Linked DNA regions of Homo sapiens. The protein of the gene in region 1 purifies or fractionates together with the protein of each later gene. This does not show direct contact. Each region holds a gene or a part of one and is shown on either strand. Other genes may lie near its edges.

Region 1 (3,653 bases):
AAGGTTTTAGGTCTAACATTTAAGTCTTTAATCCATCTTGAATTAATTTTTGTATAAGGTGTAAGGAAGGGATCCAGTTTCAGCTTTCTACATCTGGCTAGCCAGTTTTCCCAGCACCATTTATTAAATAGGGAATCCTTTCCCCATTTCTTGTTTTTGTCAGGTTTGACAAAGAGCAGATGGTTATAGATATGTGGTATTATTTCTGAGGGCTCTGTTCTGTTCCATTGGTCTATATATCTTTTTTGGTACCAGTACTATACTGTTTTGGTTACTGTAGCCTTGTAGTATAGTTTGAAGTCAGGTAGCATGATGCCTCCAGCTTTGTTCTTTTGGCTTAGGATTGTCTTGGCAATGCAGGCTCTTTTTTTGGTTCCACATGAACTTTAAAGTAGCCTTTTCCAATTCTGTGAAGAAAGTCATTGGTAGCTCGATGGGGATGGCATTGAATCTATAAATTACCTTGGGCAGTATGGCCATTTTCATGATATTGATTCTTCCTATCCATGAGCATGGAATATTCTTCCATTTGTTTGTGTCCTCTTTTATTTAATTGAGCAGTGGTTTGTAGTTCTCCTTGAAGAGGTCCTTCACATCCCTTGTAAGTTGGATTCCTAGGTATTTTATTCTCTTTGAAGCAATTGTGAATGGGAGTTCACTCATGATTTGGCTCTCTGTTTGTCTGTTATTGGTGTATACGAATGCTTGTGATTTTTGCACATTGATTTGGTATCCTGAGACTTTGCTGAAGTTGCTTATCAGCTTAAGGAGATTTTGGCCTGAGATGATGGGGTTTTCTAAATATACAATCATATCATCTGCAAACAGGGACAATTTGACTTCCTTTTTTCCTAATTGAATACCCTTTATTTCTTTCTCCTGCCTGATTGCCCTGGCCAGAACTTCCAATATGTTGTTGAATAGGAGTGGTGAGAGAGGGCATCCCTGTCTTGTGCCAGTTTTCAAAGGGAATGCTTCCAGTTTTTGCCCATTCGGTAGGATATTGGCTGTGGGTTTGTCATAAATAGCTCTTACTATTTTGAGATACATTCCATCAATACCTAGTTTATTGAGAGTTTTTAGAATGAAGGGCTGTTGAACTTTTTCAAAGGCCTTTTCTGTGTCTATTAAGATAATCATGTGGTTTTTGTCTTTGGTTCTGTTTATATGATGGACTACGTTTATTGATTTGCATATGTTGAACCAGCCTTGCATCCCAGGGATGAAGCCAACTGGATCTTGGTGGATAAGCTTTTTGATGTGCTTCTGGATTCGGTTTGCCAGTATTTTATTGAGGATTTTGCATCAATGTTCATCAGGGATATTGGTCTAAAATTCTCTCTCTTTTTTTTCTTTGTTGTGTCTCTGCCAGGCTTTGGTATCAGGATGATGTTGGCCTCATAAAATGAGTTAGGGAGGATTCCCTCTTTTACTATTTATTGGAGTAGTTTCAGAAGAAATGGTACCAGCTCCCCTTTGTACCTCTGGTAGAATTCGGGTATGAATCCATCTGGTCCTGGACTTTTTTTGGTTGGTAGACTATTAATTATTGCCTCAATTTCAGAGCCTGTTATTGGTCTATTCAGGAATTCAACTTCTTCCTGATTTAGTCTTGGGATGGTGTATGTGTCCAGGAATTCATCCATTTCTTCTAGATTTTCTAGTTTATTTGCATAGAGATGTTTATAGTATTCTCTGAAGGTAGTTTGTATTTCTGTGGGATCAGTGGTGATATCCCCTTTATCATTTTTTTATTGCGTCTATTTGATTCTTCTCTCTTTTCTTCTTTATTAGTCTTGCTGCTGCCTCACAATTCTATCTCGGACTGCTGTACTAGCAGTGAGCAAGGCTCCATGGGCGTGAGACCCACCGAGCCTTGCATGGGATATAATCTCCTGGTGTTCCATTTGCTAAGACCATTGGAAAAGCACAGTATTAGGGCGGGAGTGTCCCGATTTTCCAGGTGCAATCTGTCATAGTTTCCCATGGCCAGGAAAGGGAATTGCCAGACCCCTTGTGCTTCCTGGGTGAGGTGATGCCCCGCCCCGCTTCGGCTCACACTCCATGGGCTGCACCCACTGTCCAACCAGTCCCAGTGAGATGAACCTCGTACCTCAGCTGGAAATGCAGAAGTCACCTGTCTTCTGTGTTGCTCACGCTGGGAGCTGTAGACTGCAGCTGTTCCTATTCAGCCATCTTGGAATGATCCTGTTGAATACCAGCTTAATTTAATAGTATACAAAACCCAGCCGTTTACAGCTCTGTTGCCCCCTTTATGCTATTATCACAAATTACATCTTTATACATTGTATACTCCTTAACGTAGATTTATCATTGTTGTTTTATGCATTTTTTCCTTTAAATTAGATAGTAAAAAGAGTTAAAAAAAACGTAAAACTCAATATTACTTGCTTTTGTAGCTACCTGTATAGTTTACCAGTGTTCTTATTTTTTTGTATAGCGTGGGTTACAGTGAGTGCCTTTTCAGTTTTTCTAAAGAATGCCCTTTGGCATTTCTTGAAGGGCAATTCTACTAGTGATCAGCTCCCTCAGTTTTTGTTTATCTGAGAATGTCTTGTTTTCGCTTTCATTCTTTGAAGTATAGTGTTGCTGGACATAGAGTTCTGTATATGTGTTGACAGATGTTTTTCTTTTTCTTTCAGCAATTTAAATATCACATTTCACTGCCTTCTAGCCTCTGTGGGTTCTTAAGAGAAATCAGCTGTTAGTCTTATTGTTTTTTTTTTGTTATGTAAAAAGTCAATTTTCCTGCTTTCAAGATTTTCTTTTTGTTTTTTGGCAATTTGACTATAATGTGTCTGATTGTGGATATCTTTTAGTTTATTCTATTTGGAGTTCATTGCACTTCTTGGATGTTTAGATTCATATTTTTTACCAAATGTATGAAGTTTTTTAGCCATCATTTTTTCAAATACTCTTTCTGTTTTTCCTCTCTTTCCTCTCACTTTGGAAGCCCCGTTATGTGTATATTAGTATGTTAGGATATAGGCTGTATATTAGAGTGTAGGCTCTATTATTGTATATAGTAGAGTGTAGGCGGCTGTCCTCACAGCCTCTACTGATCTGGGATGTGGAGGATGGTAGGCAGCCACTTTAAAATGTCACAGTATCCTCTTACTACAAAGCATCAGTTCTTTTCTTCACCAAGTCTTCCTCTCTGGTTATTGTAACAATTTTACTAGATTCCAGAGTTCTGCAAAAGTTTATTCTGACAGTTTTTGCCAGCTCATTAGTTGCTTTTGAGGAGGGATGTAAGTCTGGAGTACTCTTAGTTTTGGTGCCCAATAGTATCCATTCTGAGATTAAAAAATAAAAATAGCTATGATATAATTCTACTTGAAAGGTAGAAATTTTCCGAAGAGACATGAAGTCCTTGCCCACGCCTATGTCCTGAATGGTAATGCCTAGGTTTTCTTCTAGGGTTTTTATGGTTTTAGGTCTAACGTTTAAATCTTTAATCCATCTTGAATTGATTTTGTATAAGGTGTAAGGAAGGGATCCAGTTTCAGCTTTCTACATATGGCTAGCCAGTTTTCCCAGCACCATTTATTAAATAGGGAATCCTTTCCCCATTGCTTGTTTTTCTCAGGTTTGTCAAAGATCAGATAGTTGTAGATATGTGGTGTTATTTC
Region 2 (3,753 bases), on another chromosome or scaffold:
ATAATATAAACTTTCTGGGCGACGGAGTGAGGCCCTGTTTAAAATAATGATAATAATTTGATATTTTATGCATTAAAAACTTTTGTCTGGGCATGGTGACTCATGCTTGTAATCTCAGCAGTTTGGGAGGCTGAGGCAAGAAGATTGCATGGCCCTAGGAGTTTGAGACTAGCCTGGGCCCTATAGGGAGACTCCATTCCTACAATAATTTTTTTTTTAACTAGCCGGGTGTGGTGGTGTGCTTGTAGTGCCAGCTACTCAAGAGGCTGAGGTGGGAGGATCACTTGAGCCCAGGAAGTGGAGGCTGCAATGAGCTATGATTGTTCCACTGTACTCCAGCCTGGACAACAGAGTGAGACCCTGTCTCAAAAAAAAATTAAATGTTTTGATTATACAAGGAAAATGAACATTCATGTATTAAAGCTTCATGTTTTATGAACAAAACTGACTTTGCAGGCAGGAGAGCGTTTTCTGGGGGCACCAGAAGCAGGGAACTTCCCTTGTCCGTTGGCTTCAGGGCTGCCCACTATCCCTCCACTATCTTCCCATTGTAGCCCTGTCTGGTGTCTTTTGTCCCTGACAAAACCTACAAAAAGTGACTTTAACACTTCAGGCTGCATGCATTTGAAGAGCAATAAGATAACGTTTTTTCGCTTCCCACTACCAGTGGAGATCTGCTGGGGTGGGCTGCATGGAATCTGAAATGATGTCTAAATACTGAAGTGAACCTCTACACTAGAGACTGATATACAGCTGACCCTTAAACGACGCAGGGGTCAGGGATACCGACCCCTGCGGAATTGAAAATGCTTGTATTACTTTTGACTCCCCTAGGTCTTAACTACTAATAGCCAACTGTTGCCCGGAAGCCTTATGAAGTTGCCCGGAAGCCTTATGAATTACATAAACTCCCAGTCGATTAACACATTTTGTATGATATATGCATGATATATGCATAATATATATGATATATGCATTTTGTATGATATATGCATTATATATATTTTAGTATAAGAACTATACTTGTACTAAAACAGACCAGAGAAAGGGTATCAGGAAAATTGTAAGAGGCTCGTTGACATTACACCCAATTAAAAAAAGGAAAATAAAAGAATACGGAAGGGAAAATACATTTACTAATCATTAAGTGGAAGTGGATCATCATAAAGGTCTTCATCCTTGTGTTCTTCATGCTGGGCAAGAGAATGAGGTCTTGCTGTCTCTGGGGCAAGAGGTCGGGGAGCTGGAAGAGGCAGGAAAAGGAGCACACTCGAAGTAACGTTTATTGGGGAAAAAAAACGCCTACGTGTAAATGGACCCGCACAGCTCAAACCTGTGTTGTTCAAGTGTCAACCTACTTAAGACCTCAAACACCGAAGCCCCTCAGTCGCCCTGGAAGGCAGCAGACGCAGCTTCCTAGCGCTCCCAGCTGTCTGCACACAAGGCGCCCTCCGTCGCAGCCTGGGGGAGACTACATTACCCAGAAAGCCTTGCGTCGAGCGGCAGTACTTTGATCCAATGAAAATCCAAGACAGGGGCATTTCCGTGTGGGTCTACCCCCGCCCCCCCCAGGGCGGGACTTGTGGCGTCTTCGCAGCGGTCATTTTGGCTGCCCTCCCGGAGGTCCGTTCTGTCTGTCAGCCGCTTTGGTACGCTGCATCGGGATCGAAGTGACGGACCGTGAAGGCGCGAGAGTCAGGTCTGAGGGTCGGGGGCAGAGCCGCCCGCGAGGCCGGCCTGGGGATAGCGATGCTCGGGTTCCCCCCGGGTCGCCCGCAGCTCCCGGTCCAGCTCCGCCCACAGACTCGGATGGCGACCGCACTGAGGGACCCGGCTTCGGTGAGCGCTGCGATCTCCGGGCCTCCCCCGGCCGAGATTCTTAAGTCCCAAGTGAGAGGCACCAGCTCACGTCTCTGTAGCACAGGGTCGGGGACACTGAGGCTCGTGGGTGGGGCCCCTATTTCTGACATCCGATGTGGTGGGCAGGGGGACAAGGGACAGGACCGGCGCGTGCAGGGCTTGGACGGGCAACCGAGAAGGGGGCATTCAGGAACCTGGGCTCCACATTGTTACTGCAGGGAACAAAGTTTGAGAGAGATCTACCTTTATTCTTAGGGCCGTGGGAGCCATAGAGAGCTTGCGCAAACGAGAGACACCATCTGAGTTAAATTTGAAAAATCCTCTGCAGGCTGTTCAGTGGAAGAAAAGACTTTAGAGATGGATGAGGACGTTGAGGCAGAGGGAGGTTGAATATTTTTCCAAGGCCACACAACTGGTGAGAGGCAGCACTAAGGACCGAGGCGCACAGGTTAGACAGTCGACCCAAAGTTACGTGGCTCTGGGCCGGGGCAAGGGTACAGGGAAGGCCTGTGCCCATGGAGCACTGCCATGATCACATTCCTCTGAGGCCTGCGTCTTTCCACAGGTTCCCATAGCTACAGAGGTGCTTTTCAAACTTACACAGGTAAGTGGAGGTATCTCAGCCCCTCACTGGTCTGGAATGTCCCTCCACCCTCCCCAGACAGATATTTTCTTTAGATTTGTGGTGTCATGGGACTCACCTACCATTCTCTCAGCGTTTGGTTTGGGAACCCTGGAGAATCCCTGAGCTAAGGGCCCTGAGTCCAGGCCAATGTTTCCATTTGGAGCAGCCAATGGAAAGATGGGTGAAAATTTATGATAGAAACAGGTAGGTACCAGCTTTTGGAACTCCTTGGAGGTGAGGCTGAGCTGGTTCAGGGAACTGCAGGTTTCCTTTATTTCTGTGAAGTTTGGCATCTATTGTGAGGAAGTTGGAGTTTGGGATCAGAGGAGGGAGATTTATCTAACCCAAGTGTTGACAGGATACAGAGTGGAAAACAGAATGAACACAGTGACTAATGGGAATGTGAAGAGACAGCAGGGATCAATGACACCAAGGTCTGGTGTCTCTTCTGACTTGGGGATCTTGGGAGGAGAATGTATGGGGACATGGATTTTGAGTCTTCCAAATTGAGACTGTTCATGGTTTCATCAATCCCTATTATGCTAGGGAAGTGTGACCTTTGAAGATGTGGCCGTGTACTTCTCCTGGGAGGAATGGGATCTCCTTGATGAGGCTCAGAAACACCTGTACTTCGATGTGATGCTGGAGAACTTTGCACTTACGTCCTCCCTGGGTAAGGCCCTCATACTCACCCTTGTGCCCTGGACTAGGCTCTCTGTTTCTCCTTTTCCTCAGGAGCAGCTCTGTCCTCATATCTGGACTATAGGCACTGCCTCCTTCCCCAGTTCCCTGGGTAGATGTTGTGGACTGAGTGCAAGCCTACTTCCCTTATCGTCCCAGCCCAAAAGCATCTTGGGTAAGGATTTGGGATCAGTAGTCTTACAGTAAGCCTAATAGATCCCACCTGACTTGCCTTCTCCCTGTCTGGTGACTTTCTAGATCTATGGCACCCAGTTTTCCCTCCCTTCGTGTACCTAACATTTATTTGTGCTAGACTGTGACATGAAATGTAGTCACTGACATTGCCACTATTTACACAGACTGTTCTTCAACCACCAACCTTTCCATTAACAGCAGAACACTCTAACAAATTGTGCCGCAGAGACATTACACAGACTGTTCTTATAGAAACCTCCTTCAAGGTGTTTTTCTTTGTTTTTAATTGTAAAATATATATAACAAAATTTACCATTTTAATCATTTTCAAGTATATAGTTCAGCGCATTTAGTACATTCGCATTATTGTGCAACCATCACCACCATCCTTC
Region 3 (3,653 bases), on another chromosome or scaffold:
TACTACTCTGTACTTGTGTGCCAAATGCTGTAAAAGTATAAATAGAGGGCAATATATTTCGCTTTGGACGGGAGGTTTTAGAAGGCCGCACAAGAGGGATATTCAGTCTGATGCTTGATGTAGACAGAAGGGAGAGAAGGGCATCCCAGACAACATGGGCAAAGGCATGGGAGGATTTGGTGGGTGTGTGGGCCCATGATAATTCTGTGTGGCTGGAGCCTTAGGGAGCAGGCAGGAGACAGCCTGGAAGGTCTGATGGGTCAGATTGCTAAGGAGTGTGGTTCCCCAGGAAAAACATTTTAGTGTGGAAGTGAAGTGATAAGATCCTCATTTTAGAAAGATTGCTCTTTATGTAATAGCAACCCAGGTAACACGTGATAAAGCAATGATCTGAGGGAGTGAGCATGTAGAGGGAAGGTGTATTAGAGAATTAGGCCAATTAAGGGCACATGCCTGAGAGGAGCCATATAGAGAAGTTGGAATTGACAGGACCTATTCTCTGACTAGATGTAGAGGGGATCTGGGGTGACAGGGAGAATGAAGGAGCCAAGGATGAAAAAGTTTTCTGCCTTGGGTAGCTGCTGATTGGTGAAGCAGTGAAGAATAGCAGTTCTGCACCCAGCCCCTGGAGTTGAATCCTGGCTTTTCTATTTACTAGGATGAGCTACTGTGATTCAGCCTTAAAGACTTCACCTTTCTGTGACCCAGTTTCCTACTTTGTAAAAGAGAGCATGGTTGTATCTTCTTCAGAAGGCAGATGAGATTTAATGTTTCTTATGGACTTTAAATGAGTAAATGTAAAACAGGACAGGGAATAGTACATAGTAGGCACTGGATAAATGTTAATTATTTTGATTATGGTGGATCATTAGCATAGGAAAAACACAAGGAAAGCAAGTTGGGAGGTCAGAAACAGACCTGTGAGTTAGATTTTGGACACGCTAAACTTGAGGTGACTTCTGACATCTATGCAGAGATGACCCATAAACTATTGGAAATACAAGTTGTAAATGAAAGAGTTGAGATTATGAGCATTTAAAAATTCTCTGATGAATAATCTATGTAATTATTTGCCTACAATAAGAACTTATAAGAAAAATATTTCTCATTTGCAAAGATTTGGCCATTTTCCAGTCTCAGAATTGATCCATCCCAAACCCAGAGACTTGTACAGGGCTGTTGAGAACTGTCTGGGCAATCAGCCAGCAACAGTTAATAATTATCATCCATTCCTTTATGAATTCCCAAAGTCTGCAAGTCTCTAGAGAATGTATTAGTCATTACTTTCCTCCCTCAAGTCAGAATTCAGGACTTTTTTAATGGTCCTTTGTCGAAATGTATTAACACTTTCATATGTTTTGAAAAATTACTGGACCCCTCACACTTGGATGGGGGCTTATTTAAGTCTAAACATGCACAGTTGTTTTTTTTAACCACTAAATTGTTCAGCACAATTCCCCAAATTCTTATCTCTTCTTTTGTTTCTGTTATTTTTGTGATTTTTAGTAGTGGAAATTTACAGTTTCTCTTATTTTATATTAACTCATCAGAATGTTTATGACCTGAAACCCCTGCCTGTCCAAAATGCATATAGAGAGCTCTATCCAACCTTCTTTAATTAAATGGGCATTTTCAGCAGGAAAGTTGAGTGGTTATCCAGATAGCAATGGAATTAATATATTAATATATTTACTTTGAGCTGCTTTTAGTACCTTAAAATATTACTATATGCAAATATTCATTTAGTAGATATTTGTGGTCCACCTATTATGTGTCAAGCAAAGTGCCAGGTGTGTGTACACCTAAGGCCAAGTACCAGGTAGGGAGAATCCACAGGAGGTAAAAAAGGGCCACATGGCAGAGTACAAGTGCATGGCCCTTGGTGACAAGAAGTCTTGAATTCAAATACTGTCTTCCCAGCTTTCCAGATTTGCCAAGGTATTCATATGTCAGCCTTAGTGTTAACTGGAAGAATTAATTTCTACTTTACAAGGCTGTCATGAGTATTGACAACAATGTATGAAGCATCTAGTTTAGCAGTTGGTATACAAAATAAGCCCTCAATGATTCTTACAGGCTCCCTATCTTCAAGGAGCTCTCCATTATTATTTATTATTATTATTATTATTATTATTATTTAGGTATATCCCCTGTTCTCTCAGTCTAACTGGGGAGGCAGATATAGCATCAGGTAAGTAGACTGTGGTATAATAACGAGGGGAACAAACATTGCTTATAACAAAATATATCTGAATAAGGAGGGATGAGAGTTAAAAGTTTGATATACAACATTAATTTTGCATAATACTAGCAGCATTTCTGTTGTAAGAAGCTTATTTCATGAATTTAGATTAGCATCTTCTGAAGATTTCAGGCCTAGAACAGCTTATAAAAAATTTCCCGAACTTTGCCATGCACAGGCACATTCCTGTATGAGCAACACCTCATTTAATCCCCACATCAACCTTAAAAGGTAGGCACTATTATTATCCCCATTTTACAGATGGACAACCTGAGGTACAGCGAGGTTAAAGTAACTTGCCTAAGGTCACATGACTAAGAAACCAGGATGCAGACCCAGGCACTCTACTGTCAGAGCCCACATTTATGACCACTCATTATATTTCCTCTTATTGTCTTTGTTCTTCAAACTTTTTTTTTTTTTTTTTTTTTTGAGACGGAGTCTCACTCTCTCGCCCAGGCTGGAGTGCAGTGGCGTGATCTCGGCTCACTGCAACCTCCACCTCCCAGGTTCAAGTGATTCTGTTGCCTCAGCTTCCTGAGTAGCTGGGACTACAGGCACGTGCCACCATGCCCGGCTAATTTTTTTGTATTTTTAGTAGAGACGCGGTTTCACAACCTTGGCCAGGCTGGTCTCGAACTCCTTGTGATCCACCCACCTTGGCCTCCCAAAATTCTAGGATTACAGGCATGAGCCACTGCGCCTGGCCTTCAAGCTTCATTTTACAATCAGTAGACACTGTCACTAATTATTGAGAAAATTTATACAAATCAAGGGAAATTCAGAGAAAAGTCAAACAGAAGAAAAATAATGAGTCTGGAAGAAAATATAGCCCAGCCATTCCTTCTCTCCAGGCAGGACCTAAGAAGTGCTCTCTGTGGACACGGCCCAAACCAGACAGGCCCCTTCCTGCCTGTGCCCGATTTCCAAGCTGGCCCAACCAGGCTATTCCCTCATAGCCTGTGTAGTTTACAGTGTTCTACAGATTTTTTAAATCATATTTTAAACAAGCTTCACTTTCTTCTTCTAAGAATCATGAGCTGCAACATTCCTCATTTTCTCAGTTGAGTCCCTCAGTAAAGCCCAAGGTGTCTGCAGGCAGGACTGTCCTAACCTACTAGAACTTTCCACCAGAGGGCTCTGTCTCTGAGACTTCCATTTTGATGCACATTTTTAAAAACTGGCACACTTTGGTCTGATACAAGATCCTGTTCCATGATGCTTTGATTTTATAGACCTCTTGGTCACAGTCTAGTTCATCTGGAAAGTTGTGGAGGGGAAAATAAGATCACATGCATTTTACAGAAGGAAAATCTAAGAACTAAGACCTAGAGAGAAGGGTGAACAGATAACGTGTTCATGAATCAGGAGATTCATAGCAGAGAAACTGAGAGGAGAGACAAGAGTAGGG

Evidence for each region.
Region 2: the proteins of ZDHHC15 (region 1) and ZNF211 purify together in Homo sapiens (affinity purification with mass spectrometry, with the first as the bait; one large-scale study listed by BioGRID). This does not show direct contact.
Region 3: the proteins of ZDHHC15 (region 1) and CD84 purify together in Homo sapiens (affinity purification with mass spectrometry, with the first as the bait; one large-scale study listed by BioGRID). This does not show direct contact.

What each region holds. Positions count from the first base shown.
Region 1 is NC_000023.11:75,512,973-75,516,625, reverse strand, and holds part of ZDHHC15 (palmitoyltransferase ZDHHC15), read left to right. Parts: intron 1-3,653. UniProt on the Homo sapiens protein: Palmitoyltransferase that catalyzes the addition of palmitate onto various protein substrates.
Region 2 is NC_000019.10:57,631,598-57,635,350, forward strand, and holds the start of ZNF211 (zinc finger protein 211), read left to right. Parts: upstream 1-1,570; 5' UTR 1,571-1,749; coding exon 1,750-1,839; intron 1,840-2,115; exon of another isoform or gene 2,116-2,308; intron 2,309-2,425; coding exon 2,426-2,464; intron 2,465-3,031; coding exon 3,032-3,158; intron 3,159-3,220; coding exon of another isoform or gene 3,221-3,341; intron 3,342-3,753.
Region 3 is NC_000001.11:160,541,494-160,545,146, forward strand, and holds part of CD84 (SLAM family member 5 isoform 2 precursor), read right to left. Parts: 3' UTR 1-3,653. UniProt on the Homo sapiens protein: Self-ligand receptor of the signaling lymphocytic activation molecule (SLAM) family.